6 separate regions of the Homo sapiens genome follow, and all the other regions are reported to be linked to region 1. The links are microRNA targets in miRTarBase. Many come from high-throughput screens and were not tested one by one. Region 1 holds a microRNA gene; each other region holds the end of a gene's coding sequence. Distances are between the middles of the regions.
Evidence for each region. Region 1 holds the annotated microRNA hsa-miR-6734-3p (CCCUUCCCUCACUCUUCUCUCAG, at 1,744-1,766, shown strand). A microRNA usually pairs through its seed, bases 2 to 8, with sites in the 3' UTR of a target mRNA and lowers its output. Matches are read on the target gene's strand: a 7mer-m8 pairs with bases 2 to 8, a 7mer-A1 pairs with bases 2 to 7 and ends in A, and an 8mer does both.

Region 1 (4,343 bases):
AGCAGGGGCGGGCAGAGGGCGGGGCTGCTGCCAGATCTAGTCAGACAGGTGGAGCCGCCGGGGCAGGAGTCTCAAAGAGCCAGGCTCCAGGAGAGGAAGGGCTCTGCGAGAGGAGAGAGGAGAGCGCTGGAGAGGAGAGGCTGGAGGTGAGAGTCCCAGGAAAGGCAGAGGAGAATCGTAGGGACATAAGTGTCCCAGCACAGGCAAGGAGGAATCCGAGGATAAGGTTCTGGAGGGACAGAAGGGCCCAGAGAGGTGAGAGTCCTGGCAGGGACAGGAGGGACCCTGGGGAGAAGAGAGTTCAGGAAGGGTCCAGAGGGATGGGAAGAGGAGAGGGCAGGAGAGGAGAGATTGAAGGGGAGAATCCCTGGAGAGAAGAAAGACCCAGAGCTGGGGAGGTGAGGGACTCGGGTGAGGAAGGGAGACGGAGTTCAAGAGCTCCCTGTTGGTGAGAAGGTAAGATTCTCCAGTAAGAGACCTGGAATTGAGAGTTATCTTGTGGAGGAAGAGGGGAAGGGAGGCCAGGAAGTAAAACTGTGGAGAGGAGAGGAGAGTAAGGTGTGGAGAGGAAGGGTGGAACAGCTCTTCCCAGGCAAGCAGGATGTGTGGGGAGCAGATGCCTCAACCAAACTGCCTCCTCCCCCTAGTTCCCAGTAATTCCTTCCTTTCACTGTTCTGTCCTTTCTGCAATGAGGCATTGCAGGTGTCTTGTCTGGTTCTGTGTCTTATCTCTGTGGGATGGGGGTGTGCAGTGGGATCTGTCTGACATCCGCCCTCTGTACCTCCCCAGAGTCCTTAGCCAGGATGGAGGCTGTTGTGAACTTGTACCAAGAGGTGATGAAGCACGCAGGTAAGACGCTATCCACCAGCCCTTTCCTTCCTTCTTTCCCGGGATCCCTGGATCTACGGCTGTCTTCTAATGGAGAGTTCCTATGAAACCCTTGATCCTGTGACCTGACCTCATGTCTGTAGACCCTTCAAATGAAGACCCTTCGAACCCTGTGACTCTTCCTGATTCCTTTGACCCTTATTCATAGATCCCCGGATCCAGGGCTACCCTCTGATGGGGTCCCCCTTGCTAATGACCTCCATTCTCCTGACCTACGTGTACTTCGTTCTCTCACTTGGGCCTCGCATCATGGCTAATCGGAAGCCCTTCCAGCTCCGTGGCTTCATGATTGTCTACAACTTCTCACTGGTGGCACTCTCCCTCTACATTGTCTATGAGGTGGGCCCCTGGGATGCCGGGCTTTAATTTCTGTCAGCAGGATAAGGAGCAGGCCATAGAGCCAGAGCATGGCATTTCTCCTTTCCAGAGAGGTTCAGATCCATGTCCTCAGCTAGCGAAGGGGAGGGATGGCTGGGAAGGGAGAACTCTGGTGGTCTAATCCACATCCCTTCCCAGTTCCTGATGTCGGGCTGGCTGAGCACCTATACCTGGCGCTGTGACCCTGTGGACTATTCCAACAGCCCTGAGGCACTTAGGGTAAGTAGGGGCTGGGGCTAGGTCATAAGCAACCTGGTAGATATGACCAGTTTGGGGCCTGTGCTCAAGGCCCAGTTTAGGGAGGCTCTTAGAATAGTGTATGAGGTCCTAAGGCTATCCCAACTTCTTGCAGATGGTTCGGGTGGCCTGGCTCTTCCTCTTCTCCAAGTTCATTGAGCTGATGGACACAGTGAGTAGTTATATGAGATGTGAGAACTTGAGGGGAGAATGAGGTGGAGAAGCCCAGGTTCTGAATCCCCTTCCCTCACTCTTCTCTCAGGTGATCTTTATTCTCCGAAAGAAAGACGGGCAGGTGACCTTCCTACATGTCTTCCATCACTCTGTGCTTCCCTGGAGCTGGTGGTGGGGGGTAAAGATTGCCCCGGGTGAGTGGTGAAGGCCACTATGGGAAAGGGTGGGCACCAGAGGCTGGACTCTGCTGACCCTGTCTTATTGTCCACTCACAGGAGGAATGGGCTCTTTCCATGCCATGATAAACTCTTCCGTGCATGTCATAATGTACCTGTACTACGGATTATCTGCCTTTGGCCCTGTGGCACAACCCTACCTTTGGTGGAAAAAGCACATGACAGCCATTCAGCTGGTGAGGGGCTTGGCCTGACTTACCTATAACCATCCCCCCACATTCCTAGCCTGGATCCTGCCTTTATCCAGTCTGTCTCACCTTTGACCCCATCTCTCCCTACTCAACGTTTGTCTCTTTCTCTACCCCCTCTTCCCCTCTAGTCCTCTCACTATTCCCTCTGACCCTGGTCTTTCTCTATCCTAGATCCAGTTTGTCCTGGTCTCACTGCACATCTCCCAGTACTACTTTATGTCCAGCTGTAACTACCAGTACCCAGTCATTATTCACCTCATCTGGATGTATGGCACCATCTTCTTCATGCTGTTCTCCAACTTCTGGTATCACTCTTATACCAAGGGCAAGCGGCTGCCCCGTGCACTTCAGCAAAATGGAGCTCCAGGTATTGCCAAGGTCAAGGCCAACTGAGAAGCATGGCCTAGATAGGCGCCCACCTAAGTGCCTCAGGACTGCACCTTAGGGCAGTGTCCGTCAGTGCCCTCTCCACCTACACCTGTGACCAAGGCTTATGTGGTCAGGACTGAGCAGGGGACTGGCCCTCCCCTCCCCACAGCTGCTCTACAGGGACCACGGCTTTGGTTCCTCACCCACTTCCCCCGGGCAGCTCCAGGGATGTGGCCTCATTGCTGTCTGCCACTCCAGAGCTGGGGGCTAAAAGGGCTGTACAGTTATTTCCCCCTCCCTGCCTTAAAACTTGGGAGAGGAGCACTCAGGGCTGGCCCCACAAAGGGTCTCGTGGCCTTTTTCCTCACACAGAAGAGGTCAGCAATAATGTCACTGTGGACCCAGTCTCACTCCTCCACCCCACACACTGAAGCAGTAGCTTCTGGGCCAAAGGTCAGGGTGGGCGGGGGCCTGGGAATACAGCCTGTGGAGGCTGCTTACTCAACTTGTGTCTTAATTAAAAGTGACAGAGGAAACCACGGAGGCTGTGTGTATACGTATGTGAACAGAGGAGGTGGGGGAACACAACACGCTTAGCCCTGTCCACAAACAAGAGGGATGGATGGTCCAGGCTCCCACAGGACATATCTAGCTCTCTGATCCCAGTAGAGTAGAGCCCCTAGGAAGGCTGCTGGGACATAGGTCATGAAAGAAGAAAGGCATTAGCTGAAACAGATTTAAAAAAAAAACATGAAGGGAGACATGACTTTATTAGAAAAATAAAAAACAACTGAGGTGATGGGTTGGTCTTCAGCGGATGCCTTGGTGGATGAGGCTGCTTTTGGCTGCACTGGCCTTCTCCCGCTCCCGCCGCCGCGCAGGGTCCAACTCAAAACAGCGCCATAGCCTCAGGGTCTCATCTGCTGCTGCGGATGCCACTGTGGCCCCATCTGGGCTCATGGTCAGACTCAGGACCCGGGATGTGTGACCTGGAGCAAATGAGAACAGTACATACGAATGCTGATGCAGCCATAGCCATAAAGGAGGCACTGGGCCACCCACCTACCTTTTTGTTTTTTTTGAGACTTGCTCTGTCACCCAGGCTGGAGTGCAGTGGCGCAATCTTGGCTCACTGCAAGCTCCGCCTCCTGGGTTCATGCCATTTTCCTGCCTCAGCCTCCCGAGTAGCTGGGACTACAGGTGCTTGCCACCACGCCTGGCTAATTTTTTGTGTTTTTTAGTAGAGACAGGGCTTCACCATGTTAGCCAGGATTGTCTCTATCTCCTGACCTCATGATCTGCCCGCCTCAGCCTCCCAAAGTGCTGGGATTACAGGCGTGAGCCACCGTGCCTGGCCTCCTCCCTTTTTTTTCAATGGTGTTACTGAGATATAATTCACACACCATAAAATGCATCCTTTTAAAGTGTACAGTTTAGTGATTTTTAGTATATTCACAAAATTGTACAACTGTTAAAACTAATTCTAAGACATTTTCAACATTTCCCATTACCCTCTCTCAGCCCCTGGCAACCATTAATGTGTTTTTTCTCTGGATTTGCTTATTCTGGACATTTCAGTCATACATTATGTGGCCTTTTATGTCCGGCTTTTCACCTAGCCACTTACCTTTGAGTTCAGCCACCTTGGCCATGGTTGGGTACTTCCAAATAACTAGCTGGTTCTGTGCAAAGCCATGGCCTGAGATGAGCTCCTTGTAATGGGGAGACCAGAGGATGGAGCACACCTGTGGAGAGGAGCTGGTGTGGGCATGACATATAGCCAAGGCTACTTAAATCAGAACTGAGCCCATTCTAGTGTTAGGCACCCTGCCACATGCTCCAGACTCAGAGTTGAATGATCATAGTCCA
Region 2 (5,217 bases), not on the chromosome of region 1:
GGGGAGGAAAGACTCCTCCTAACACCCCATAGGCTCTCCACCAAGCTGTGTGCTAAAAGAGGTGACTGCCATCTGTGTGTGCCCTGGGCTCACCTTTTATTTCACTTTCCCTTGCAGGGACTTTCCATCTAACTGGAAAGATGAAGAACATTTCCCCTCTCCTACGCTAGGCAGGGCTGGGGTTTGGGAGGTCAGTGACAATCAGGGGCTAGAGCAGATACCTGGCTATTCTGGAGAAGGGGGGGACCTAGAAGGGACTCAGGAGGAATGCCTGGAGGCAGTAGGTGAGGCATACTTAGGCTGAATTTCCAGGGAAGCTTGCTGGAGTCATCTCAGGTCAGCAGGCCCAGCAGAGGGGTTAATGTCTGCCTTGCTCTGGGAATGAGGTGCTTTCCAGCCCTGGTAACAACCTCCACCTGTCTCCCTTTGAGCCCTTGCAGAATGAAGTGTTTGCATCGCGACATCAGGACCAGAACAGTGTGGCCTGCATTGAGGAGAAGTGCTATGTGCTGACTTTTGCCGAGTACTGCAGGTAGGTGGTTCCCTGCACCCTCTGGCTGGCCTCTTCCCTCAGGCTCCCCAGGCATATTTGGGGCTGCTTGGAATTCCCCGAGAGGATCTCATTCTGCTCTCTACCTGATCTTACTCACTGAGCCTAATCTCCCAGAACTTACTTCCCTATTGCTTGCCTCTACCATCTGATATTTTTTGGAAGAAAGAAGAAAAATTGTGTTGCCACACTGAGGTAGAATGGTTGGAGCAGAGTTGGGGGGTAACATTACTGCTCTTGGAAAAAATTTAGGCGAATTGGCAGGCAAATGGAGAGAGGCCCTGGCAAGTGTGGTTCTCCAGTGACAGAGAAGATAGCCTGGTGGTTGGCAGAGCAGACATCATCCCTGGGATGGGTGGAGACAGTACCACCCCTTGGGGAGCTAGGATAGCCTAGCTCTCTGGGTCGGGTAGGGTAGGGTAGGGAAGGAATTGGTCTTCCTGCAAAAGTGGCTGGAGTAAAGACAGTGAATGGTATCTCTCTACAGGTTCTGTGCCATGGCCAAGCGCCGAGGTGAAGGCCTCCCCAGCCGAAAGACAGCACTGGTTCCCCCCTCTGCAGACTATTCCACCCCACCCCACCGCACAGTGCCAGAGGACACGGACCCTGAGCTGGTGTTCCTTTGCCGCCATGTCTATGACTTCCGCCACGGGCGCATCCTTAAGAACCCCCAGTAGCCTCCTCATGCCCATGCTGGGGCTACCCATGGGCAAGTGGGGCTCGGGGTAGGGGGCACTGCTTGAAGCACAGCACTTGGTTAGGGGGCCACAGAGGCCTAAGTTTGCTGGCCTGTGGTTTTCTTGGGGGGGAGGGCAGGGGCCCCTGTGGGTTCTGGGCTCCAGGGGAGGGAGCTGGGGAGGCCAGGGTATAAGAAAAGCATCAGAACTCTCAGCTTGGCCCAAGGTACCTTCTGTGGTTCCCCTGGGTGGAGATTTCCGAAAAGTAGTCTTCTCTGAGGCTGGGCCAAGCCTGAGGGAAATGGGGCCCTAGGAGGGTGGGGGCGGGAAGGAGGGGCAAGGTCTTTCAGGAACCAGACCCAACAGGCCCTTCTGTAGCCTCCCCCTTGCCCTCAAAGGGGGAGTGGGGGCCAGCTTTACCTCACCCACTGTGACCCGCCGCTTCCCCTTCAGCCTGGGACCAGGCTTTCCTAGATCCCAGCACAGCTCTGAGCTTGTTCCTTTGAGGCATAGAGAGCCAGAGTCTGGCTTCCAGAGCATTGACTTCCTCTTCCTAGACTTGAGGCCTTTTCTCTGGCTTTCCTCCTTTGCCCTGCAGTAGCAACTGGTGCTGGGACAAGTTGACCCACCTCTCACAGTCATGGGTGTGGCCCACTTGTGGGAGTCTCCTGTCCACCTCCCAGAGACGGCCACCCAGCGGGTCTGGCTTCCCAGAAAGTTAACTGATGATTGTGGGGTTTGTCATATCTGGGAGGGAAGATGGGTGCTGGGAGAGGGTTGGGGGCAGGGGGCAAGGAAAATTGCTACCTGATTTGTTGAAGATTTTTCCTCTTGCCTTACACATGGAGGTTCCAGGAAACCTCTTGCAGAACTTCACACGTGATTCTTCAAGCCACACCCACCTGAAATCAAACCAAAGGAGTGCTGTGGCTCCCCTTGCCCTGCCACCCTTTCCCTAGTCTTTTGTAGATTGCACTAATTTACATCCTAGCAAGAATCAACACTGTATCAGTCCACGGACCTGCTGAGCTGCAGCCACTTGCTCTAGGAGCTAAGGACTTGCATTTTCAGTTTGTTCCTGTTGCCCAGAGGCCCTGTTCTCACCTCATGCTGCTCCCCAGAGTAGACTAACAGGCTCAGTCCCCTGTTGTCCTTGTGGAGACTAGGCCTTGGCCCTGGCCCTGAGACTCTGTGAGGGGGCTGGAGCAGCCTGGTTATTTCCTATCTGTACCAAAGAGGAGTATGGTGGGAGAGGGAGTGGAGTGCAGTGTGGCTTGGGCCTGGTGCTGGGAACCTGCTAGCTGAGCACTTCCACAAGGGCATACCCCTGGGGGCAGGGGCTGGGGCTGAGAACTGCAGCCCTGGGTCTTCCCTTAGGGAGGAAGGGCAGATGAACCCAGCAGGCTTAGGAGGTGGCACTGGGTGAGGACAGCTGGGCAGGGGCTGCAGAGGGAGGTGGAAATGAACCCTGAGGGCTCCCCCAACTTGCCATGCCCTGTCCCTTAGTAGATGAGTTGCTCCTGATTGGTCATTGGGTTTGGGTGAGGCCTGGAGGCTTCAGAGGTGAATTTATGCTTGGGAAGCCTGATCCCAAACCTGAAGGGAAGGGACTTGGATCTCCTTATATTGAATAAGCTGTTTGGAGGAAGGTGTCTGTCTGGGAGGATGGGGCAGTAAATGAGGTTGGCAGAGTGGCAGTGGGGGCTCTGCAGAGCCAGCCTTGGAGCCTGCTCATTCTGGGCCCTTGCTGCCAAGGAGCCCAGCCTCACCTAGCAGGAAAGGAGATGAAGGCCCTCCTCCCAGGAGGTAGGGTCTTGGCTGCCCCGAACTTAAATGCTTTTGAAATCTCTTAGATGTGGAAATATTTTTTCGAACCTGAAAATGCAGCTGGTAGAATTTCAATGGAAGCATAATCCATGTAAAATATATTTTAGTTGATATTTTGTAAAATGCACTTTTTGTGTGTGTTGATCCTGGTTTCCCAGATCTGTATTTCAGTGTTTACAAGGGAGGAAGGACCTTTCCTCACCTCCCTTTTGACAGAGATTAGAAGTACTTCTTTAAGAAAAAAATAAATTTGAGAAATTGTATTGATTTAGAAAAGGATCGTTTCCTGTGTGTCCTGTCATCTTTTGGTGTGTGGGTGTGGAGAGACCCACTATTCTTATTTCAGAGGTCCCTCTTAACCCCTGTGGCATGGATGCTCACCAAGGCCAATGAGCAAAGAGGGCAGGGAAGCAGAGGGAAAAGAGAGTGAGGGAAGGAGACAGAGGGACTGGGAACTTGGAGTTGACTTCTTGATTTCATGGTGGCCACAGCTGCCTGCTTAGGTCTGTGTGAAATACTTCAGTTGCCAGCCCTCACCTGACCAGTGACCTGGAAATTGGTCCCCAAGTAGGTACATGGCAAAGATACCTTCTTATCACTGGCCTCATGCAGTGGCTCCTGCCTGTAATCCCAGTGCTTTGGGAGGCAGAGGCAGGAGGGTTACTTGAGCCTAGGAGTTTAAGACCAGCCTAGGCAACATAGACCATGTCTCTCGAAAAATTTAAAAATTAGCCCGGCATGTCAGTGCATGCCTATAGTCTCAGTCAGGAGGCTAAGGTAGGAGGATTGCTTGATCCCAAGAGCACGAGGCTGCAGTGAGCCGTGATCATACCACTGCAGCCTGGGTGACAGAGTGAGATCCTGTCTCAGAAAAGAAAAAAAAAGCATCCCTCCTCATCACCTTGGGTAACTGGCCAGCACTGTCCTAGGGCCTCAGTGTCTTGCAGCTGGTGCTTCTTGCTTGCTGAGGAAGGCCACATCATGGGGCCAAGGGTCTGCGGCCAGCTGACCCCTGCTTCAGCCCAGCCCTGGTCCCAGCCTGGAAGCCTCAGTGTTGACCATGTTCCAGGTGGGGCAGCTCTAAGGCCATAGAGGTTCCTGGGAGCCACAGCACCCCCCCGCCCCGCCTCCACTTCTGCATTTTGCTAAGGCATGGTGCATGTGGGCAGGAACATTTTTTCAGAATTTATTGGTGGCACAGACACCACCATGGATTTTTCTAGCTCTGCCTTCAGTGTGGTGTCCACAAGACTCCCTTGAGGCGAGTGGTAGCTTGTCCTTATCTTACAGACAAGAAATTGGTATGGAGATAAGTACCAGGCCCAAGGACTCCCCCTGCCTCACCCTGACTGCTAACACAGAAAACTACCCTGTAACACAGAAGGGAGCACATGTGGCCACATTATCAAAAGATTTTTAAAGGTCTAAGGCCTTTTTTTCCTCTCCTGGTTTAAAGGACATACTTACTGGAAAATATGATTTTAATAGAAAATCCTATCACCAGAAATGTATACCTTTAGGATTATTGGAAGCAAGGAGCAGTGTAGACAAGGCAGAACCTTCACGCAAACTTCTGGTGCAGCAAATGGACAGGTGGTAGCCTGCAGATGCACTGGGGCAATCAGATGTGGAGAGCCTGCCCTGGAGAGCTGGAAGGCTGCAAGGCTTTACCGTTCCTTCCCCTGGCTCATCTGTGTGCTTTTCCTGTTGCTGGGATTGTGGGGTCATCAGTGAGCCCTCTAGTATCACCTCATCCCTCAAGTCCCCTCACCCTTCTGAATTCATCTGATCACTGGTAGCTCCATTCTCCCACTGGTATCTTCTATTTTCCATCACCTGCTCTGTACAGTCCGCCCTCGAGTCAGCTGCTTCCTCCCTTCTAGCCATTCCATGATATGCTCCTTTAATCTCTGAAGGGCCGTGATTAGAAATTTAGGTTTTAGACTCAGAACCACCCATACTGAGTCACATCTTCCCTGAGCCTCTGTTACTTCAGCTGTACAAAGGGAATGTCCACACTAGCTCCCTGCCAGGGTGGCTGTAACAACTAAAGGAGATAATGAATATAAAACACTTAGTGGGCGCTGTCCTCAGTACACTTGGGCTCTAATCATATTCCTCTGCTGCTTCAGAGGCTTGCTGGCTCTCTGCAGGCAGCAAGCA
Region 3 (4,180 bases), not on the chromosome of region 1:
GTGTGGAAGGCTATGGGGCTGTGGTGCTGCCTGCCACTCCAGGTAACCGCTCGTCTCTGCCCTTCTGTGGCCCACATGCCCTAGGCCCTAAGAACAAGACTAACACTCGAATGCTTCTGGTGAGGGGTGGAGATAATTGGGAATTGGAAATGTTTGGCTTGAAAGAGTTCCTGTTCCTCTGAGGACTTTCTGCCCCCCTCCATTAGCGACAATGACGTGGCCTTGGCACTGACTTCCTGACAGTCTCTCCATGTGCTTCATGCTCCTCTGATTGGACTCAGGGTGAGAAGCTGTATGGCAAAATTGGCTCATAGCATATGTGTATTGAATGAATCAGCATTCAGTTTGGAATAAAAGCATCTGTCTTTTACTGTGTGCCAGGCATTGTGCCATACTTCTCACTTAATTCTCCCAGTCACTCTGTGAGGTGCAGGTGGTATTATTTCCATTTTACTAGATGAGGAGAATGAGCTTCAGAGAGGTTAAGAAACCTGTCCTGGGTATGCAGGTAATAACTGGCAGAGCGGAAATTTGAATTTCTCCCTGATTGATTTCCATACAGGTGCTATGGGTAACCATGATAACCTGCACCAGAGGCCAGGTCATCACCAGACCAGGTGTTTTAGCTGAGTCTAGGCCTGTGTCATTGCTGGGGAGTCAGTGAGGGGCCACATGCCCTTTCTGGACCTGGCCCCAGTCTTCTCTTCCCTTGCGCAGGCTCACACACCCTGACAGTCTCCACGTGGAGACCTGTGGAGCTTGGCACGGTGGCTGAGCTGAGGAGGTTTTTCATTGGCGGTTCTCTGGAACTGGAGGACCTCTCCTATGTACGGATACCAGGATCCTTCAAGGTGACTTTTGTCTTTGGAGTGACTTCACGCTGAGAACTTATGGTCCTGTCCTTCTGTAGGAGGTGGGATCTGGGTCAAGACCCCTTAGTTGTGCATTGCTTCAGTATTAACCCCTTCCTTCCTGTGGCTTAAGCTGGAAGTCATGACCACATTTTGAATCAGGTTCCAATATCTACACTGCTATCGTAGGAGGTCTCTGGAAAATAGTATAATTAGAGATTTCCCCTGGTTCCCATCAGAATAACTGGCTCTTTCCCCCATCACTGAAGGCCTCAGTAATCAGATGTGGGGAGGATTCACAGTAAGCATATAAGACCGCCGCTTCTCAAATGAGGTTGGAATGTTCCCTGGTTTAGTTGGGGGAGCCCAATAGCCCAGTATTAGCCTTGAGGTAATAGAGTCTGGGTGATGGAATAAGGTTTCCCCAACAGAACTGCGCTTCCCAAGAATGGGAATAAGAATGGGGGTGAGGCCAGCATGGTGCGGGGGTGTCTAGAGAGAGCAGAAACCTGAGGCTGTCCCAATGGCATGCCACAGGGGGAACGCCTGAGCCGCTTTGGACTCCGCACAGAGACCACAGGCACTGTCACCTTCCGCTTGCACTGTCTGCAGCAGTCCAGGTGAGTGACTTGGCCCTCTGCCTCAGGGCACCTTAGCCCTGAGGGGTGGAGACAGCCGTAACCATGTGGCTGGCCTCCCTGCAGGGCCTTCATGGAATCGAGCTCCCTTCAGAAAAGGATGCGGAGTGTGTTGGACCGTCTGGAAGGGTTCAGCCAGCAGAGTTCCATTCACAATGTGCTAGGTATGTCCCCTCCCCCAGCTGGCCACCCCAGGTCAGCATGGGCCTGTTTCTCTCTGCAGTGCAGAGAGAAATACCATATGGCAGCCAAATAGCATATCTCCTTTCCTTACAGAGGCCTTCCGTCGAGCCCGGCGCCGCATGCAGGAGGCCCGGGAAAGCCTCCCGCAGGACCTAGTGAGCCCCTCTGGAACCCTGGTCTCCTAGCTCACAGCAGCCCTGGCCCACAGTGCAAGAGGACAAGATGGGGGATATCTGAGGCCAGTGCTCTCCTGCCTCTTCGTCTTTCTGATTAGAGACCACGTTGGTCTGCTGAGAACCAGAAAAGCTGGGAAATTCCCGGCTGGCCCCTCTGCCTAGCCTTCTGCAGGGTCTTCTCCCTACCCTGTGGAAATAAAGCCAGAGACCCTGTGGCCCCCCCTTTATATTTGCAGCCACTGTCAATGGGCATCACAGCAAGGCAGGCTTTTTGATCTGAAGCTGTTTGGGGTGACCCCATAGTGAGTCTGGCCTTGACTCACTTTTCTGGCTTGTCTCACAGTAGCAGGGGATCTGCTGTTCTCCACCCTTTAAAAATGGAGCCTTTCATCTTCCAAGACCAAAGAAGGAAGGAAGGTGGACGGTGAGAGGGTCTTAAATCCCCAGCCTGTGAGTCTCAGCCTCTTTCCAGGGAAGCCTCATTCTACTGCTTGGGGCTTGCTGAGGTTGAGATATGAGTTATTTCTGAGTAAGTGAAGGCTGAAGGCAGTGCTGAGTCCTTTCTGCTAGCTGGGTGGTATCTTTTACTGTGTTTTTTTGTTTGTTTGTTTTTTTGTTTTTTGTTACATAAACCCCTTTTATTTTGACTGATGTTCTGTTGGCTGTTTGTCTGCTCAGGTTGCTGGTATGGCTAGGGTGTTCTTAATGTCGGGGCCCCTACCATGTCTGCCCTTCCCCTTTTCTGCCTTTCCCTACTCCACAGTGTTTCTTTGGGCTCTCCTAATTCAGCCCCCAGGAGAGGCTTAGATGGTTGTGCCAGCTTGCGTGTTAACAGCACTTCTCTTAAACATCTGGAGCAAAGCATGGAACTGAGGCCACGTCTTCCCTAGCCCAACACAGAAACAGCAGCCCCTGCCCTTAGCAGTGCTTTATTGGTAGAAGCAGAGCATGCTGCCTGGCCTCAGGCTCAGAGGAGTATTGTGGGGTGTCTGGAGGCTAGGACCGAGTGGTCTCTTAGTCATGGTGAGGGAGGGGAGGGAGGGCTGGGAAACAGTAGAAAGTGCTGTAAACCCTCCAGCTGACTTTTCTTGCCTGGGGTGCAAGACCACATGGCTTGGCTCCCAAGCCTTTGCACGTGGCGCTGATTCATAGCCTAATACCTAAGAGGCTCCCAAGGCGGGAAGGTCCATTGCTGATAGGAGCCCCCAGCCTTCACTCCTGGCTGGGGAACCCAGCTCTGAGCTGTAGCCAGCAGAAGCGTCAGCAGCCTGCACTTGCTCCAGGGAGACAAGGCAGCCTCATGGTCCTCCCCTTCCCCTTGTCTCCAAAAGTTGGAGACTTGGGATAGACTCCTGTGGAAGTAACAGAACTGGATAAGTCAGGAATTTACTGGATGTTTAGAAATGGAGCTGTTTTCAGGTATTAGTGACCAAGCTGAGGATAGTTGGATGCTCCTAATTTCCCCCCAAAGTCCTAGGGCCTGGAATTGACTGTCAGCCCAGAAACTAGCACATTGGGAAGCCACTTGGAAAGAGTACCTAGTGACAAGTTCTGTTTTCTCTGCTTAGAGACCTAAGAGGACTCAGCCATCCATCCAGGGAAGGATGTGAGGGCTTAACCCAGCCCAGGGTGCTGGAGGTGGCCTCCCCTTACCTGCAGAAGCCTCATGTCCCTCGCCAGGCTGATAGGTTCAACCTGGGGATACGGCTGCAGTTCACAAAGCCCCGAGGGTAGATGTTGGCTCTGAAGATGTCCCTTGAAACCGTGGTGATACCGGTATTGTCACATATAATTCGAGACAAGGAAATTCTGCTCAGGGCCTTGCGCTGTCTTTTGGTGAAAACACCTCGTTTCTGCCACCAGAACCTACCAGGCAGTCGAGAGATGTGGGTGAAGGCTGGGGAGGAATTACCTTATAATGAGCACCTGTTGTGTGCCAGGTACTTTACATATATTATTCCATTCAATTCTCACAAAATTCCTGCAAGATTGGAATCTCAGAAATGAAACAAATTCAGTGGCCAAATAAATTGCCCAGTATTAAGTGCACAGTAATTTAAGTGGCCAGGGCTGGATTTGAACTCGGGCAATACCAACTCCAAATAAGGAGACAGGTCTTTTTTTTTTTTTTTTTTTTTTTTTTTTTTTTTTTTTTTGAGACGGAGTCTCGCTCTGTCGCCCAGGCTGGAGTGCAGTGGCAGGATCTCGGCTCACTGCAAGCTCCGCCTCCCGGGTTCACGCCATTCTCCTGCCTCAGCCTCCCAAGTAGCCGGGACTACAGGCGCCCGCCACTACGCCCGGCTAATTTTTTGTATTTTTAGTAGAGACGGGG
Region 4 (5,217 bases), 170 Mb from region 1:
CATTCACTGAGCTGTGCTTTAGCTAGAAGCTAGCTGTTGATTTCTAGTTCTATCAACATTGAATTAGTTGGACCACTTTTATGCCAGGGAAAAACCATTAGCTGTTAGGAAATCTTTCAAGGGCATAAAATAAGAAACCTTCTAACAATTATATTTTCTTTTTGGTCTTTTTTTTTTTTTTTAATACTTAAGAACAAGGTTCGGCTGGGTGCGGTGGCTCACACCTGTAATCCCAGCACTTTGGGAGACCGAGGCAGGCAGATCACCTGAGGTCAGGAGTTCGAGACCAGCCTGACCAACATGGTGAAACCCCATGTCTACAAAAATACAAAATTGGCCAGGTGTGGTGGCACATGCCTGTAATCCCAGCTACTCAGGAGGGTGAGGCAGGAGAATCACTTGAACTGGGGAGGCAGAGGTTGCAGTGAGCCAAGATTGTGCCACGGCACTCTAGCCTGGGCAACAAGGGCGAAACTCCGTCTCAAAAACAAAAACAAAAACAAAACAAAAACAAGGTTTATGTGTAACCTAAACATGTCTTTTTCTTGCAAAAATGGATGTGAAACTTTTGAATTAGAACTCACTAGCCATACTGAATATCCTAAACTTGATTCATGATCTCAGTTCTCTCTTATCCAAGGTGAGAAGAGGCTCATTAAGAAATGGAAAAGTTGTAAGATACATTGTGAGATTGTTTAGGCATAATCGTATATTGGAAGTCATTTAGGACGCATCTTTAATGAAGACAGATGATGTGCTATTGATGTGAATGTTGTATTTCCCAGCTTGAAGTACTTTCTCACATGACTTTGCATAATTGCTTAGTTGTAGTTTTATGTTGGAAGTGACTTTAGCACGTTTCTAGGGAAGAGATGTTTTGCCACTGAGTGATTTTCCACACTGACATGCTTTTTCAGATGAATCCTAAGATTCACCTTGATTTTATACATTCAAGCCTGAACATTAACCGCTCCCTGGGAACGTGAGTCACCTTTGATTCCTGGGCTTCCTCCAGGACACGAACACTAGGAAGCCAATGTTTCAAGGAGAATTTGACTCAGATTCTTGGCTCTACTGTAGTGTATGTGACTTTTAGACCCTTGCAAGGTTCAAGAGTACTGGGTTTCAAAAGCTATAATGTGACCAAAGTCAGGCTTAAAGCTGCAGAAGCTCATTCCACACCCTGAAAACTTTTCTGAACTCTACATTGAAAGTCTGTTAAAATGTTCCTTAAAACCTTTAAAGGTGGACTTAAGAACAAGAAGTAGAGTTGTGAGCTAAGGCTGGCAGGGTGGGGGAATGGGAGGATGAGACAAATATCAGAAGGATTAGGAAAACCGAGTAGAGGACCTTGAAAATGCTGTTGTCTTTCTTTGCCCCATCCCCTCTCCTCCACCATATTTCTGTCTTTTACCCTTAGGCCTGCACTGCCTGAAAAGAAGGTGGCTGATCTGAGCACTCTGAATGAAGTGGGCTATCAAATCCGAATTTAGCCAAGCCATACCGGCCAGCAAGAGGGTTTCTGTGGTGCTTCTCTCTGCACTTTACCCAGCATCTTCAGGAGGAACTGCAACTATTTATTAAGAACTTGTGAATTTTATTTTTAAGGATTCACCTGGAAATAGAATCTGAGTGGGTGGTAACCATTAGCTTTAAAAAATTCACTAAAAGGCACCATGAAAAGGCTGAAGTAATAAGCCCCACTGGGGTTGGACTATGTCCCTCACTCAAGATCTTAAGGATAACCGTAACTGAAGTTTTATATTTTTCCATTTACCTACTTTCTTTTACTTGCTTTGAACATTATGCCTCACCAATAGTAAATGTTCATGAAATAATCTCTTGAACTTTTGGTATAGTAAGGTAACTCTAACAGTATTACTGTCTTTTTCAGCAATAACAGAAAGCAAAAATGGGTGGGTTTTTTTTAAGCAGTTATTACCTCAGCATTTTGACATCAGATATGCAAACTTAATGGCGTTTTGTTTTTTTATATTCTATTTGTATTCTTTCCCCAGTATTTCCCATGGGGATCTCCACAAGTTTGGAGTTTTTTCCTGGTGCACACACGTGAGGAGATTTAAGGTACTATATGCAAGTGTTTTACTAAAAAGCACTGAAATTCTTCTGGCAATACAAGAACCATTTTCAGGATCTTGGAGTTACTTCCTTCTTAATCTTTCTTAAAGCATTCACTGATGTTTTTGTTTTTTCAAAATGAAACAAAAATATCACATTGAGAAGCTAGTCTATGTTCTGTCACTAACATTTAAACTTTGCAGACTCTAACAAAAAGCACAAGAGGTCACGTACTATTATACAAATTTAGCGGTACTGGATTTACCTCTGACATTAACACACTCAGGCAGAGACCAGGAGTGATCAGCAGGTCTTCAGAACCAAAAAACCTTTCTGTTCACATTTCATCTGATTTTTAAACTGAGGCAGGCTTTGATTCTTCTGAAGGATGCCAAGAATCAAACTAAGGGAGGACTCACTGTTAAAGATGTGTTCTGATGTCTTATATTAAGACCAAATGTGACATGATGTGATTATCTTCCAGTACTTTGCTTTTAGGTACCATTTCATGACATTTTAGGAATGAGTATTGGAAAATATAAAGAATTAGAAAAGCAGCACTTTTTTTTTAATGGAAAAGTCTTCGGTCCAGTGTTACACCTTATAGTGTAATTCAGTCCCTAAGCACAGAATGAATGTCTGGCCTGCATATGGTAGTTACAGTGTAACCTCTGGCTGCAGACCACACAGGACAACCCTAACAGCCTAGTCTTGTATGGTGTAAATATCAAGAGTACAGCTTCAATTTCATTTGCTTTATCTTAGCAACAATGCCAACTCAGGAGAGCAGACGGCCGATTTCAGTGAAGTCTGGTAGTCAACAGATGTTATTTCAGTCTCAGTGCATCTCCTCTGGCTTTCTTTGACTGAAGGTGTTTATAGGAAGGAAGTTAAAAAAAAAAAAAGCTCATTGAGATTCTTTACCAATTCTTTACAAGATTTCTGGGGGTGACAGGGAAAGCAAAAGGACTTCAAAGCAAAAGGGTGCACAAGAGCTTACTTCACCCTGAAAATCAGTATTATTAATGAAAAGTACTGTTTTCTTAAAGAAGTCGAATGTCCTTTAGATGAACAAGACCAAGTATACATCTCCATTAGATTAAAATGTAGCACAGGGTTAAAAATTATCAGTTTAATCTCTTTAAGAACAGTATTATCAGAGTTTAAAATGAGTTAGCTCTGTTTATCTACACACAGCAAACCCATTCGCAGCCTCTTGGCCACATGTATTCAGATGTTTGAAATAGTGAATCATTTCATTTTCATTCTAAAACAATACTGACTTAGCCATATACCTTCTGTTTGTCAATCTGAAACTTGCTTACATCTAATAAGTAGACCTCTTATAACACTGCAACCATTCTAAGAGTTGGAATTTATTTTTGCCAAGTATTAAGTACTGTTACATCTAAAATACAGAATGTCAAATGGTTGCATAGCTTGTTTCCCACAACAAGGAGGAAAAGAACAGGAATACAAACTCTGTAATATGCTGATAAAGAAGCCTTAGAACTGCCAACTGGCTTGATGGTTCAATTAGTAAGCTAATTTCTCCCACACCCGCTCCTTGATTTTTAGACTAATTTTCCCAAAGCAAGGTTTAGTCACACAAACTTGAAAGTACATTTAAAATGTTCTTAGTTGTCATCCTACTTTTATTGCCTATGGAATATGCTAATTTCTAAAAAAAATACGGGAGAGGCACCAAACCCCTAAATTCTAGTGCAATAATTTAAAAAACAAAAAACAAAACAAAACAAAAAACATGTTATATGCACCCCCCTCCCAAAGCTGATTTTAAGACTGGCTAGAATTCAAAATATAAAAAATAAAACTATGAAGTGATTTGAAATCGGTTTTAAAAAGTTGTTAGTGCAAGAGAAATTTTATGTTTAAGCCATCATGGCAATATATGCAAAGTTTAAATGAATGACAGAAATCTTGATTTTAGACTGTATGTTGTGCTGTTTTGAGTACACTTTATTTCGGAGATATTTAGTATTTTCTATACACTCTGAAATCATGAGCATTTCACTTTTTCTAAGTCAATTATTTCATAAGGATTTTATTAATAGATATTGGTAAATAGAACTTTGGAAATCTTAATTCAGAATTCTTACTATACCTGAGTCTTTTGTAAGCTATAGTTTTATGTACAACCTTGTACAGTTTTTTTGACATACAATTCAGAACTTTGTTTATTCTCTTGGACTTTGTTCTGGCCAATACATTTTTTTTAAATCTTTAAGAAGAACTGTGATTGTTTTAGTGGGTATTTTTCTAATTAAATGAAAACTTGTATAATGGTATTTTAGAGAATGCCAGTAAGTGCATGTTTCAAGTTAATGTTTTTCTCATCACTTGTATGTTTCTAACACAGCATGGGACTTTAATAAAACCATCCTGGAAACTTAAGGATTGTTTTTCTTCTAAATATGTAAGATGTGGCCGGGCTCAGTGGCTCAAGCCTGTAATCCCGGCACTATGGGAGGCCAAGGCGGGTGGATCACCTGAGGTCAGGAGTTCGAGACCAGCCTGACCAACATGGTGAAACCCTGTCTCTACTAAAAATACAAAAAATTAGCCGGGCATGGTGGCGGGCGCCTGTAATCCCAGGTATTTGGGAGGCTGAAGCAGAAGAATCGCTTGAACTTGGGAGGCGGAGGTTGCAGTGAGCTGAGATCCCGCCAATGTACTCCAGCCTGGGCAACAGTGCAAGACTCAGTCTCAAAAAAAAAAAAAGTAAGATGGTGTGATTTTTTTTTTTGGTCCTCTTATTATATATTTATTCTACTGAACCTATTTATCGTTCTTTCACCCTTCTTTCACAATCTGCAGACTCTATATTAAAAACACTCTATCACTCTATTTTGACATATCTCAATTCACTCATCTTTTAGCATCACCCCTAAGTAAAAATGGCTGCAAAGGGCAATGAAATAGTTTAGTAAAGGCAACAGTACAGCTTATACATCTCAGTATACCTACCACAAAACCTTCAGGCACAGAAGTACGAGTATAATAGTTTATTACCTAACTTACAGGTACAAAGTGCAAATGACTTGACGCCTCTCTTTCCCCAATCCCTTGAACTCTCTGGATCTCAAACTTTCTTTAGGAAAGCAAAGGTTAAAAGCA
Region 5 (5,217 bases), 160 Mb from region 1:
AGACTTCCCTGAAGAGTTCTTCTGCATCTTAATATCTTACAGGCTCAGGAAAGAGGAGCAGTAATAAGTCCAGTCTCGGGTTAATCCATCATATTCTAGGCCTTGTGCTTAAGTCTTGACCTGCAGAATGTCAAGTCTCCTGCACCCAAGCCTGTGAGCCAGTGCCATGTCATCTCCATTCCTCCTGGAAGATGAGGAGATTGGGCTGAGAGCAGCTGGAACCCTGTCCAAGGTGAGTGGCAGCACTGGGGTTTGAGCCTAGGTCTGCTGGCTCCTTAATATTGGGATCCAGACTTGACTTAAGGGCCCTGGCTTTGAAAGGGAAATTGAACCTGCCATGAAGATCCCTCCAGGTGCCCAGGCTGCAGCTCCCCTCCTCTCCCACCCTGTGGCCCCAAGTCTTTCCTCCTCCCTTCCCTCCCTCCATAGCTCAGAACCACTCCAGAGTAACCTGTGCTGGCAGGGGTTAAGTCACCTCCTGCTGGCCTGTGCTGTCTGCCTGCTTTGCTGTTTGCCAGGGCTGCACCTGTTGTAGCCCTACAGTTTTGATGAGGTTGGCAGGGAGTGCCAGCTCTGCACGGGCATGGTAAACATGCCACCTGCCTGCTCAGTGCTGCTGGAGCAGTAACGTGCCAACTTCAACATGAATTCTTAGCTACTCCCTCTGTAGTGGACCCAGGCTGAGGGGAGCATACCAGCCTGGCTGAGACCTCCGGACCCTCAGGTGAGGGGCTGGGACCTGCATGACAGATGCTCTGGGAAGGACCTGCCTGTTGGCCCTGCATTCTGAAGAACGGTCCCCAGCAAAGGAGGCCAGGTTGAAGTGGGGGCAATGCACTCCCTTTTTTCCTTCTTTTTTTTTGTTTTTTTATTTGAGACAGAGTTTCACTCTTGTCGCCCAGGCTGGAGTGCAATGGCACACTCTTGGCTCACTGCAACCTCCGCCTCCCAGGTTCAAGTGATTCTCCTGCCTCAGCATCCCAAGTAGCTGGGATTATAGGCATGTGCCACCACGCCCGGCTAATTTTGTATTTTAAGTAGAGATGGGGTTTCACCATGTTGGTCAGGCTGGTCTCGAACTTCTGACCTCCGGTGATCCACCCACCTTGGCCTCCCAAAGTGTTGGGATTACAGGCGTAAGCCATCATGCCGGGCCGCACCCCCTTTTTTCTAAAGGGCGAGAAGGCTCAAACACAAACAAGGAAGCATCAGTGACCATCAGAGTCCCAGACAGGCAGGGCTTTATTAGACACGTTGTCATGATAAGGCAAACACAGGCTGGTGTTCTGTCCTTTTTGCAGATGACCCTGTGTAGCTGGGGCTGGTCTTCCCCCACCTCCTCTGTTCGCTGTCAGTCTCAGGATCAGCTGAGCATGGCCGCCACCCTCCCTCCCTTTTTCCTCCTCCCTTTCAGTGTGGGCTGTTGTTGGCAGTGACATTTAATTCAGGGAAGGCACCTGACCTTGGGGAGGAATGTGGGAAATGTCTGCAGCCTGGGGCAGCCACCCCCCACCTGGGGCCCAGGAATGTGGGCTCTAGGACACCTGTGGCCCCCAAGGGAGGTGAGTGTAGGGTCCAGGAATGACACTGTTGGAAGGCCCCGGCAAGGTCACCTAGTGAAACTCTTACATTGTGCAGAGGGTGAGGATGAGCCACCAATGCCACCCCCCGTGGCACCAGCACAGCCTTCTCTCCAATCTGGTGACAGCACTGTCTCTGACTCTTGTTGTCTCCTCAAGCCTGAGGCCACAAGTACAGCGGCAACTTCTGATTTGTCAGACCCACAGAACTGCAGAATGTCCAAGCCCTTCGAAGTGAGCTGCTGCACATCCTCTACCGCTGATGTGGAGACTGAGGTGCAGAGAGATGTGAGTTGGCTGCCATCTACTCACTATGGGCCAGGACCCAGGTCTCTGGGGTGGGTGCATTTCCCACCATCCCTCCTGTTCCAGATGCTGGAAGTCAGCATCTTTTCATCCCAGCAGGGAGATTCAGGTGGCCTCTCCTAAACCCCCACAGGGTTACTGCTGGGAGTGCAGTGCCATCTAGGGTGCCCATCTGTGTGAACTGCCGGGAGTGGGTGCTGCAGCCACAGAGGGCCTGGTCACTACACTCAAGCCCATGCTCCAGCACCTGGAGAGCAGGTGCTCTGTGCTCTGGCTGACGGCTCTGAGAAAACCAAGCTAACTCCAGCAGCTGCCTTCTTTGGGGCTGCACCGGGAGAAAGTGTTAGCGTAAGGACTCTGCTGCCCTCTCGTGGCCTCACTTGGGTATGGCTGCTGCCATTCAGGCCGCTGGTGGCTCACCTGCTCCGAGCTATGGAAATCTCTCTCCTAATTGCCTTTGCCTGGACTCTAAGAGGCCTGGATGGGGTGGATATCATCCCTTCTATCATACCGCTTAGGCCATGCCTTGTTCCTTGTCGGATTCTGGAGGAAGAGGGCCTCAGGTCAACAGGAGAGGCCTAGCCTGTGTTACCCAGAATGCTTGGGTGTGGGGAGAGACGTGGTGGTTCCCACAGACACAACCTAATCAACCAACACCAGACAGGATGGTTTGAAAATTTAGAGGATATTTATTTCTCAGGAAGGTGCACAACAGCTGGCAGGCACTGCTTTCCCTGCTCTAGGGGATTCCTCTCTCCTTTTCCAAGAAATCCCCTCTCTTCTTAGAAGTGCCCATGGGAGGCTGGGATGTGAAAAGAAACCATACACAACACTCCAGAGCCTTAAAAAAATAAAGCAACAACCTCCTCCACACGAATACACTTACAAAATAAATAGACGGATAAAAGAGAGGCCACGTGCCTCCCATCCCGGCTGTAGGGCTGCTTGGGGATAGTGGGGCTGGGTGGCTCGGTCCCACTTCTCCCAGCCAGGATGATCCAAAGGCTAAATGGAATGGAAGGGCCCTGGCTTCAGAGAGAGGATGGGGCAGGACCTCTCCTGGTACTCAGCAGGGAAGACACTGGGGGCACGGGTAGGGAACAAAGGAACAAATAAATAAATAAATAGAACCCAACAGCACTCTCAGAGGCCTAAGGGCTTAGGGTGAGGCTCAGGGGGGCCCTGGGGCCTGTTTCCCTGAAAATAACAGATCCAGTACAGGCAGAAAGAACAGAAGGGAAAACACAGGCCACACCCACCTGGCCTGCAGAGCCCAGCCCCAGAAGGAGGCCTCAAATCAGCTCTACAGGGAGGAGGGGTGGGGTGGGGATGCTGAGCTCCACACTAGCTGCTCTGAGCCTGCTCTCTGGCCCTGGAGGTGCCCGAAGGCTAGGGACCCTCCCATCCCTGTGTTCTCTGCGGCCAGCAGAGCCTCCTCCCTCACTCTCCAGCCTTCATCCTCACCATCTCCACCAGAGAAAACCGTAGCTATCTCCGAGGTGGGCTCTTTCCTAGGAAAGTTGAGGCAGAGCCCTCTCCTCCTATTCTTAATGGTCTTCCTGACTTGGGGCATCCTGAGGGTCAGCTGGGAGAAGTCCTTGTGTAACTATAAATAATCAAAACAATCCAACCCCATGTCCACCTCTGCTCCACTTGGCCACAGGTGCCCGCACTATCTCCAGGTAGGGCTGCATTCTAAGCTCCCTTCAGGCCAACAGGGAGAAGGTGTCAGACAGAAGCAAGTACAGAGAAGGGGGCAGGAGCTGCTGGAATGGACAGTTTGGGCAGGAGGCCAAACTGGACACACAAAGAAGTCCAAGGGTCCCTCCTGGAGAAGTGTGGCCAGCTGGGGGCCAGAGAGCACAGGGTTGGTGTGGCTGGCCACTCAGCTGGGCAGCAACACGTGCTCCAGGAGGTAGGTGAGGGAGTCCCAGTGCTTCCAGAGGAGGAACAGGACGAGGACCAGGAGGGTGGTGCTGGTGATGCGCAGGCGTGTCTTCATGAGGGGCGTGATGAAGTTGGCGATGGTGGACACGAACACCAGCAGCACGGCCATGAGCGCCAGGATCACGTTGATGAACTTGCCCAGCAGCGCCCGCGCGTTGGCATTCTCCACGCCCTCCAGCTGTACCACCTGCTGCTGTTGCTGCTGCAGCTCCAGCTTGGTGACCCGGGTCAGGCAGGACTCCACGGCCTCCTGCAGGGGCAGAGGGGCTGGCATGTGTGCGCTCAGGATGGGCAGGACCCCTAGGCTGAAAACCTACCTACCCCACTGAGAAGGTGCCTATAACGAAGTCTCCTCTCCAAAGGCCAGGAGGAGTGGAGGTTGACCAGCTGCAACTGGGGTCAGAGACCTTTAAGGATGACTCTTTGGGGAGGATGCTAGGAAATGAGAGTCTTGATTACTAGGGAAGGAAAAGAGCTGGCCCAATCCCAGCTGGCTCCCTCTTGAGGCAGGCTGGAGCCTGGAAACTCCAAATACTCATTTGCGAAGCTGCCATCAAAGAGGTGGGGGGCATGGTGGCCTCTGCCCTGTGGGCTTGCCTCTGCACAGTGCACGCTGTCAGCCTCAGGCCTGTCTTGCTCACTCCACTCCGCTCCCGCTACGCTGCCCTCTTCATCCATGTGCCTATCGGCCCCGGCCAACAGGCCAGCCTGTGTCTATCATGCCCCACGTGACAAGAACCCTAACCCTCTGGCTGCTGCCAGCTCTACCAGCACATCTGGGGCCTCCCAAGGTTGCCCTGGCCATACCTGGATGTCCCGTGCCCTCTCATAGGACTGGTAGGCCACCTTCTCCTCCATGCTGGCCAGCTCCTGCTTCAGGTTCGTCATCTCGTTCTGATGAAGCTCAGTCAGGTCGTTGAGCTGCTCCTCCAGCCGCTCGTACCTGGCGGAGGGAGAGAGAGTGACACCAGTCCTGGCTCCCCGAGCTTCCACTCTCTCCCACAGTTGATTCATTCATTCTCTCAATAAACAATGACTCAGCCCATCCCCCGTGTCCAGCTCTGCTCTGTTCTAATTTTAACAGCAACAACAATAGAAGCTACTATTTACACAGCACTTCTTAGGTGTAGGCACTGTGCTAAGCATTTTACCTACATGACCTCATAGGATCCTCCCCACAATCCCATGAGATAGGTGCCAGTGTCATCTCCATTTTACAGAGGAGAAGACTGAGGCGTGGAGGCTGAGGAGCCTGCCTAGGATCACGCAGCTCATGAATGGAGGAGTTAAGGATTGGCTGACTTCAACCTGGGCTCTTAAGCCCTAGGCTCAGATGCTCTCTGGGTACCAGGGACACATGGGTGTAGAGGACACAATCCCGGCT
Region 6 (5,217 bases), not on the chromosome of region 1:
ACCATTTCTGAGCTTAATTTTCCCCCTCTATAAAATGGGGATAATATGGAAGTATTGAATTTATTAGGATTGTTACAAGAATTAAATGACCTGTTGTATACAAAAGACTTAATCCACTGCCTGGGACATGTTAGGTACTTCATAAATACTGATGGTTACTTTTACTTTCAGGATTAGCATGTTCTGTATTTTTAAAAATAGCTTTAGGCTTTTTTATAACAGTGTCTTATTCTTTTACAAAAAATAGATGGAGATGTTATTGGGCCTTTGCCACCGGAGCCAGAGGCTGTGCCAACCCCACGTCCTGCTGCCCAGAGTAGCAAAGTAGAAGTCATTGTCCAGGAGAGGAAGGACACCAAGCCTGGAGTGCCACACATCCGGGAGTGGGACCGCGGAAAAGGTAAGGGAGGTGGGCTCTGAGGTGTAAGAACTCTCCAGTGAATGGAAAATGGTTTTTTTTCTAGAAGCACTTGGGGTAAGTTTTAACTTCGTGCTGCCTTGTGTGGTTTTACAGCTTTGGAATGCCATTTCTCAGGACCTGCCTTTAAAGTATTATGAAAGTTTGGTGTTCTCATATGCTCTGTTTTTAGCAGCCTCTTTTATGTTCAGTTGAAAATGGTCTACATGCCAGTGTACTAACCTGGATTCACACATGGTTCCATTGGGGAATTTCCCTGGACATTTTTTCTGTAAATTCTCCAGAGTGTCCACAGCAGCCTCTCTGGAAGACTATGGTTTATGCCTCTTTGAAAAAGATCATTTCAGTAGAACATTAGCCCATGCTGTCTGAGCTGATAAGATCCAAAGCTAAAGTAAGAGAAATGCAAGAGCCACTGTTAGAAATAGAGATGAAATACCAGACAAGGTTGGACAGTTCCCTTTTGTGTCTTCCAAAACTCAATAACGGACAAAATTTGTATTTTGGTATGAAATACCTACAATGTCATGTCAAGCAGATAATTTGTCTGTATTTCTCTTTTTCTGTATTTCCCCATCTAGAGATAGTCACTCCCTTTTCTTAGCCTGGTCTTTTATACTCGTTGTAGGTATTACTTATACCTTGTAATATAGTTTTGCTGTTGCCATTCTTATTCTTTGGATAATTTGTGGTGGCTTTTAAGAAATATATGATACAATTAGATAATAGTAACAATAAATTCAACTGATTCGTTAATCAGTTCTAATAACTTTCTTTCTTATTTTTACCAGAATTTTCCTTTGGATACTGGTCGAAGAGGCAGTCAGATCTCCGGGCTGAGAGAGATCCTGAGTTTGCCCCGCCGTCAGATTACTTTGTGGGTCAGAAGAGAACTGGTTTTTCCAGCAGCCAGGCATGGAGCAGACCTGGGCCAGCACAGAGTGACCCAGGGCAGTGCCCTGACCAGAGCCACGGACCTAGCCCTGAACATACGTCACCCACTCCTGCCCCCGACAACCCACCACAAGCCCCCACAGTTACTTTCAAAACTCTGGATGACATGATTTCCTATTACAAACAAGTGACATGATCTTTCAAAGCACGCTGACTTGGGTTTGTACTTTGACAGTGCCTTTCTCTCCCAGAGGGAGAAATAACTTTAGGAACTGAATTGTACCTTTGTCCTGTCCTTTCCCTAGGAGGCACAGACTTCGGGTTGGATTTGTCAGCAAGGAGGAAAGTTATGGAAACTTTGGCCACTTGGCTGTTCATTTTATTCTAAGTGGGATAGGGACATACCTACCTGGATTTACATGTGAGCTGCGATAGAATAGAAGTATTTATTCTGTAAAATTAGACACTGAGATGTGCTTATAACCCTGTTTCATATCTACTCCCACGACTTACTCATATTTAAGGGTTCTTTTCCATTCCTTTTGCAAATCCGAGCATGCAGGTGTCTTTATTCCAAGGGTTCAGCTTCCAGATCAGCCGATGGACCATAGGTCACGAGGAATTTCTCCCTGTCAAGCAGTGGAAAACTGCATGGGAGGCAAAATGCTCTGTTCTCCAAGAGGACCCGGAAGTAATCACATAGGAAATGATAAGGAAGACCAGGAGGAGCTCTTCGTAGTCCAGAAAGGTAGAAGTGGGAGTTGTTTACTTAATTTTACTGTCATACCATGCTATTACCTACACTCCTGTGTGCAGTGGGCATTCAGTAAATGTGTGTTGAAGGACTGGGACGTACGTGGAGGCTGCTGGACCTGGTCAGAGACTGATGTGCCTTAGCGGCAATGGTTAGAGCTTTTCAGTGCATCCCACCTCCCTGTCGCCCCCATGCTCGGCTTCCTCACATTCAGGAGCCTGACTTGGATCAGACTTGGGGCTGCACAGTGGAGCAGGTGGGTTCCCGTGTCATTAGTAATAAGGAGAGGGTTGGGGGTGGGCAGGGCTCCAGAAAGTCAGCAGTGTGCCTGGGCACCCACCCCATCCTCTACCTGCCACACCTCAGAGGGTTCCTACAGCTGCACACAAGCAGTTGAGAGTTGATGACCAGGCCCATAGGGCTCCCACAGCTGGTTCCCAGGCCAGTGAGTGCTGTGAGAATACAGTAGCACAAGTCCTTGTTCTCTGAAGAGTGGGAAGGAGAGGAGTGAGTGAAGTAGCCTGTCCCCTGCAGGTCCTCTGCGATGGCATTGTCTCGGTTCCCGCAGTGCTGCAGTGTGGAAGGGAGTGCCCCATCCTCATTACAGATGACACACTGGAGTGTGGAGGGGTCGATGACTTGTGCAGGGTCATATGGTACCTAAGGGGCAGATCTCAGACTTAAACACAATTGATGTCTAACCCCTAGACAGTCTTTTTAGTGCCCTCTGCTCTCAGTCTTGTTGCCCTAGTATCAAGCAATCTTAGACAAACATCCTGAATTCTTACAAACTTACCTCTAAACTCTGAGGATAAAGTTGCCAGTCCTTTTAATGGTCAGCCTAATCATTCTGTCAGCCTAATCGGGTAATTGCTTTTTTTAATAAATACACATAAAAACCAACTAACCCAGCTGCCTTTTTTGCAGAAATTGACAAGCTAATCTTAAAATTCACATGGAAATGCAAGGAACCCAGAATAGTCAAAACAATCTAGAGAAAAAACAAAGAGGACTCACACTTCCTGATTTCAAGATTGACCACAAAGCTACGATAATCTACACAGTGTGGTAGTGGCATAAGAATAGACACATAGATCAGTGGAATAGAGGCGAGAGTCCAGAAATAAAACATATATCCGTGGTCAATTGATTTTTGACAGTGGTGCCAGGACCATCCAGTGGGGAAAGAGCAGTCTTTTCAACAAATGGTTCTGGGACAAGTGAATATTCCATGCAAAAGAATGGGTTTGGACTTCTGCCTCACACCACATACAAAAAATCAACTCACGATGAATCAAAGACCTAAATGTAAGAGCTAAAACTACAAAACCTACTGAAACAGCTTGTAGGATAAAGAGGGAGGAGACAAAAAGAAAAATTGGAATACTAAAAAGAAAAATAGAATTATTAGACATGCTAGAATCATAGGAAAAATAGAAAAAAGAAAGGGTAGAAAGAAAACAGCTGGGCACGGTGGCTCACGCCTGTAATCCCAGCACTTTGGGAGGCCAAGGCGGGCGGATCACGAGGTCAGGAGATCGAGACCATCCTGGCTAACACGGTGAAACCCTGTCTCTACTAAAAATACAAAAAATTAGCCAGGCGTGGTGGCAGGTGCCTGTGGTCCCAGCTACTCAGGAGGCTGAGGCAGGAGAATGGCATGAACCCAGGAGGCGGAGCTTGCAGTAAGCCAAGATCGCGCCACTGCACTCTAGCCTGGGCAACAAGAGCAAGGCTGTGTCTCAAAAAAAAAAAAAAAAACAATGAATAGACAAAGAAAGATGGAAAGAGGATGTGTGTGTAACCCAGAGCAGAAGGACTTGAGGCTGACTGTGGAGTAGAAAGGAGAAGGGAGACAGAGACAAGGCAGGCAGCAGGAAGAGCTGTAGGTGTGGGAGCCAGCATCACAAAGGGTCCATCCCAGGTGACCACATCCATGCCTGCAGCACCCGGGTGGACGGCGAAGCAGTTATGCTCGTTGGCTCATGGTCACTGTTATCTGAAGATAACTGTGAGTCACATTTTCTCTGGGATTTCAAAAACTAAATAAACCTATTTATAATCCCCTCTTAACAGTATAATTTAGTTCAGTGTTTTGTGAGCCCTTTTCTGTTTCAGATCCAGTTCTTTGAGTATTGACACACCATCACAGTCTTACTGTGACACGGGCCTGTCTTGTACCAGTGTATCCAGCAGATGGCATTAGAATTCTTAAATGTCAGCTCCATACTCTTAAAACAGCACACTCCAACAGAAATAAAAAATAAATCTGTGGCGCATGCCTGTAATCCCAGCTACTTGGGAGGCTGAGGCAGGAGAATCGCTGGAGCCTGGGAGGTGGAGGTTGCCGTGAGCTGAGATTGCGCCATTGCACTTCAGCCTGGGCAACGAGTGAAACTCCGTCTCAAAATTAAAAAAAAAAAAATAAGCCCAGAGTGTCATTTTCAATTTTCTAGCAACCATATTTAAAAAGTGAAATTATAACATATTTTATTTAACTCAGCATATCCAAAATATTTCAATATGTACTCAATATATGCAAATTATTAGTGAGATCTAAAATTATTCTTCACACTAAGAATTCAAAACTCACTGTGTATCTGGTTATAGCATAATTTGGATGCTAACGTTTCATCAGGAATACTTGATCTGTATTTAGATTTTGTAAAATATGCAGTTGAAAAACACAAATTCATATCCAAGTTGTTCCAAAGATAGTTAAACATAGTAAAGTTTTTCAGTAACTGAATTGAACATCAAGTTTGAAAAAATAAAACCCAGTTCCTTAGTCATGCTAACCTTATTTCAGGTGCTCAAAGGGCCCATGCATCTAGTGCTGCTGTCCTGGACAGAGCGGCTCTAAGTGATCTGCTTTTACACGCTTTATGGTCCGACTATACATAATCCTCCCATTAGTAACTAAAGTATTGGCCAATAAATTTTTCCCAGGCATACATTAAACATTCACAATACTCTGTGGCCATGTTTAACTTGGGAGCAAGTAGTGGCAAAACCTCCTATACAAAAACGTGACCACACCTCATTCATGCCTTTGTAGAGCTAAGCAAAATGCTTTAGATCAAAAATTGCCTTGAATTATTTACGTTCATTGTAATCTCTCCTCTAGGCCTTTGTGTGTTTTGATAGAGTT

Region 2: miRTarBase lists BAHD1 as a target of hsa-miR-6734-3p. Seed matches in the 3' UTR shown: 8mer at 1,553-1,560, 7mer-m8 at 2,829-2,835 and 7mer-A1 at 3,239-3,245.
Region 3: the mRNA of EPX is a reported target of hsa-miR-6734-3p. Seed matches in the 3' UTR shown: 7mer-m8 at 3,159-3,165.
Region 4: the mRNA of VASH2 is a reported target of hsa-miR-6734-3p. Seed matches in the 3' UTR shown: 7mer-A1 at 2,961-2,967.
Region 5: miRTarBase lists TMCC2 as a target of hsa-miR-6734-3p. The part of its 3' UTR that is shown has no 7-base or 8-base seed match.
Region 6: the mRNA of CCDC174 is a reported target of hsa-miR-6734-3p. Seed matches in the 3' UTR shown: 8mer at 2,561-2,568.

The regions. Positions count from the first base shown.
Region 1 is chr1:43,362,071-43,366,413 of GRCh38, reverse strand. MIR6734 (microRNA 6734) reads left to right here and starts at 1,699; the gene lies at 1,699-1,766. It overlaps CDC20 (cell division cycle 20), which reads right to left. Exons shown (of 11, transcript NM_001255.3): 10 at 4,102-4,219; 11 at 3,211-3,463. The coding sequence ends at 3,285. ELOVL1 (ELOVL fatty acid elongase 1) reads left to right here. Exons shown (of 8, transcript NM_022821.4): 2 at 791-850; 3 at 1,038-1,228; 4 at 1,406-1,486; 5 at 1,620-1,676; 6 at 1,767-1,872; 7 at 1,954-2,090; 8 at 2,277-3,013. The coding sequence starts at 805. The coding sequence ends at 2,498. RefSeq lists a silencer at 14-103.
Region 2 is chr15:40,464,904-40,470,120 of GRCh38, forward strand. It overlaps BAHD1 (bromo adjacent homology domain containing 1), which reads left to right. Exons shown (of 7, transcript NM_014952.5): 6 at 432-532; 7 at 1,038-3,333. The coding sequence ends at 1,227. Among named protein-coding and RNA genes, the nearest start is that of CHST14, 3.5 kb to the right of the region's middle.
Region 3 is chr17:58,203,756-58,207,935 of GRCh38, reverse strand. It overlaps EPX (eosinophil peroxidase), which reads right to left. Exons shown (of 13, transcript NM_000502.6): 12 at 3,502-3,714; 13 at 2,762-3,200. The coding sequence ends at 3,513. MKS1 (MKS transition zone complex subunit 1) reads left to right here. Exons shown (of 18, transcript NM_017777.4): 14 at 1-42; 15 at 718-851; 16 at 1,389-1,471; 17 at 1,556-1,653; 18 at 1,766-2,495. The coding sequence ends at 1,857. Among named protein-coding and RNA genes, the nearest start is that of EPX, 13 kb to the right of the region's middle.
Region 4 is chr1:212,987,092-212,992,308 of GRCh38, forward strand. It overlaps VASH2 (vasohibin 2), which reads left to right. Exons shown (of 8, transcript NM_001301056.2): 8 at 1,421-4,494. The coding sequence ends at 1,493. ANGEL2 (angel homolog 2) reads right to left here. Exons shown (of 9, transcript NM_144567.5): 9 at 5,091-5,217. Among named protein-coding and RNA genes, the nearest start is that of ANGEL2, 26 kb to the right of the region's middle.
Region 5 is chr1:205,270,679-205,275,895 of GRCh38, reverse strand. TMCC2 (transmembrane and coiled-coil domain family 2) reads right to left here. Exons shown (of 5, transcript NM_014858.4): 4 at 4,641-4,776; 5 at 2,553-4,083. The coding sequence ends at 3,772. Among named protein-coding and RNA genes, the nearest start is that of TMCC2-AS1, 36 kb to the right of the region's middle. RefSeq lists enhancers at 1-63, 672-1,254, 1,255-1,836, 4,039-4,183, a silencer at 2,081-2,375 and a cis regulatory region at 4,111.
Region 6 is chr3:14,669,687-14,674,903 of GRCh38, forward strand. CCDC174 (coiled-coil domain containing 174) reads left to right here. Exons shown (of 11, transcript NM_016474.5): 10 at 248-400; 11 at 1,210-2,969. The coding sequence ends at 1,508. Among named protein-coding and RNA genes, the nearest start is that of C3orf20, 2.8 kb to the right of the region's middle. RefSeq lists enhancers at 1,298-2,497, 2,432-2,641, 3,967-4,016.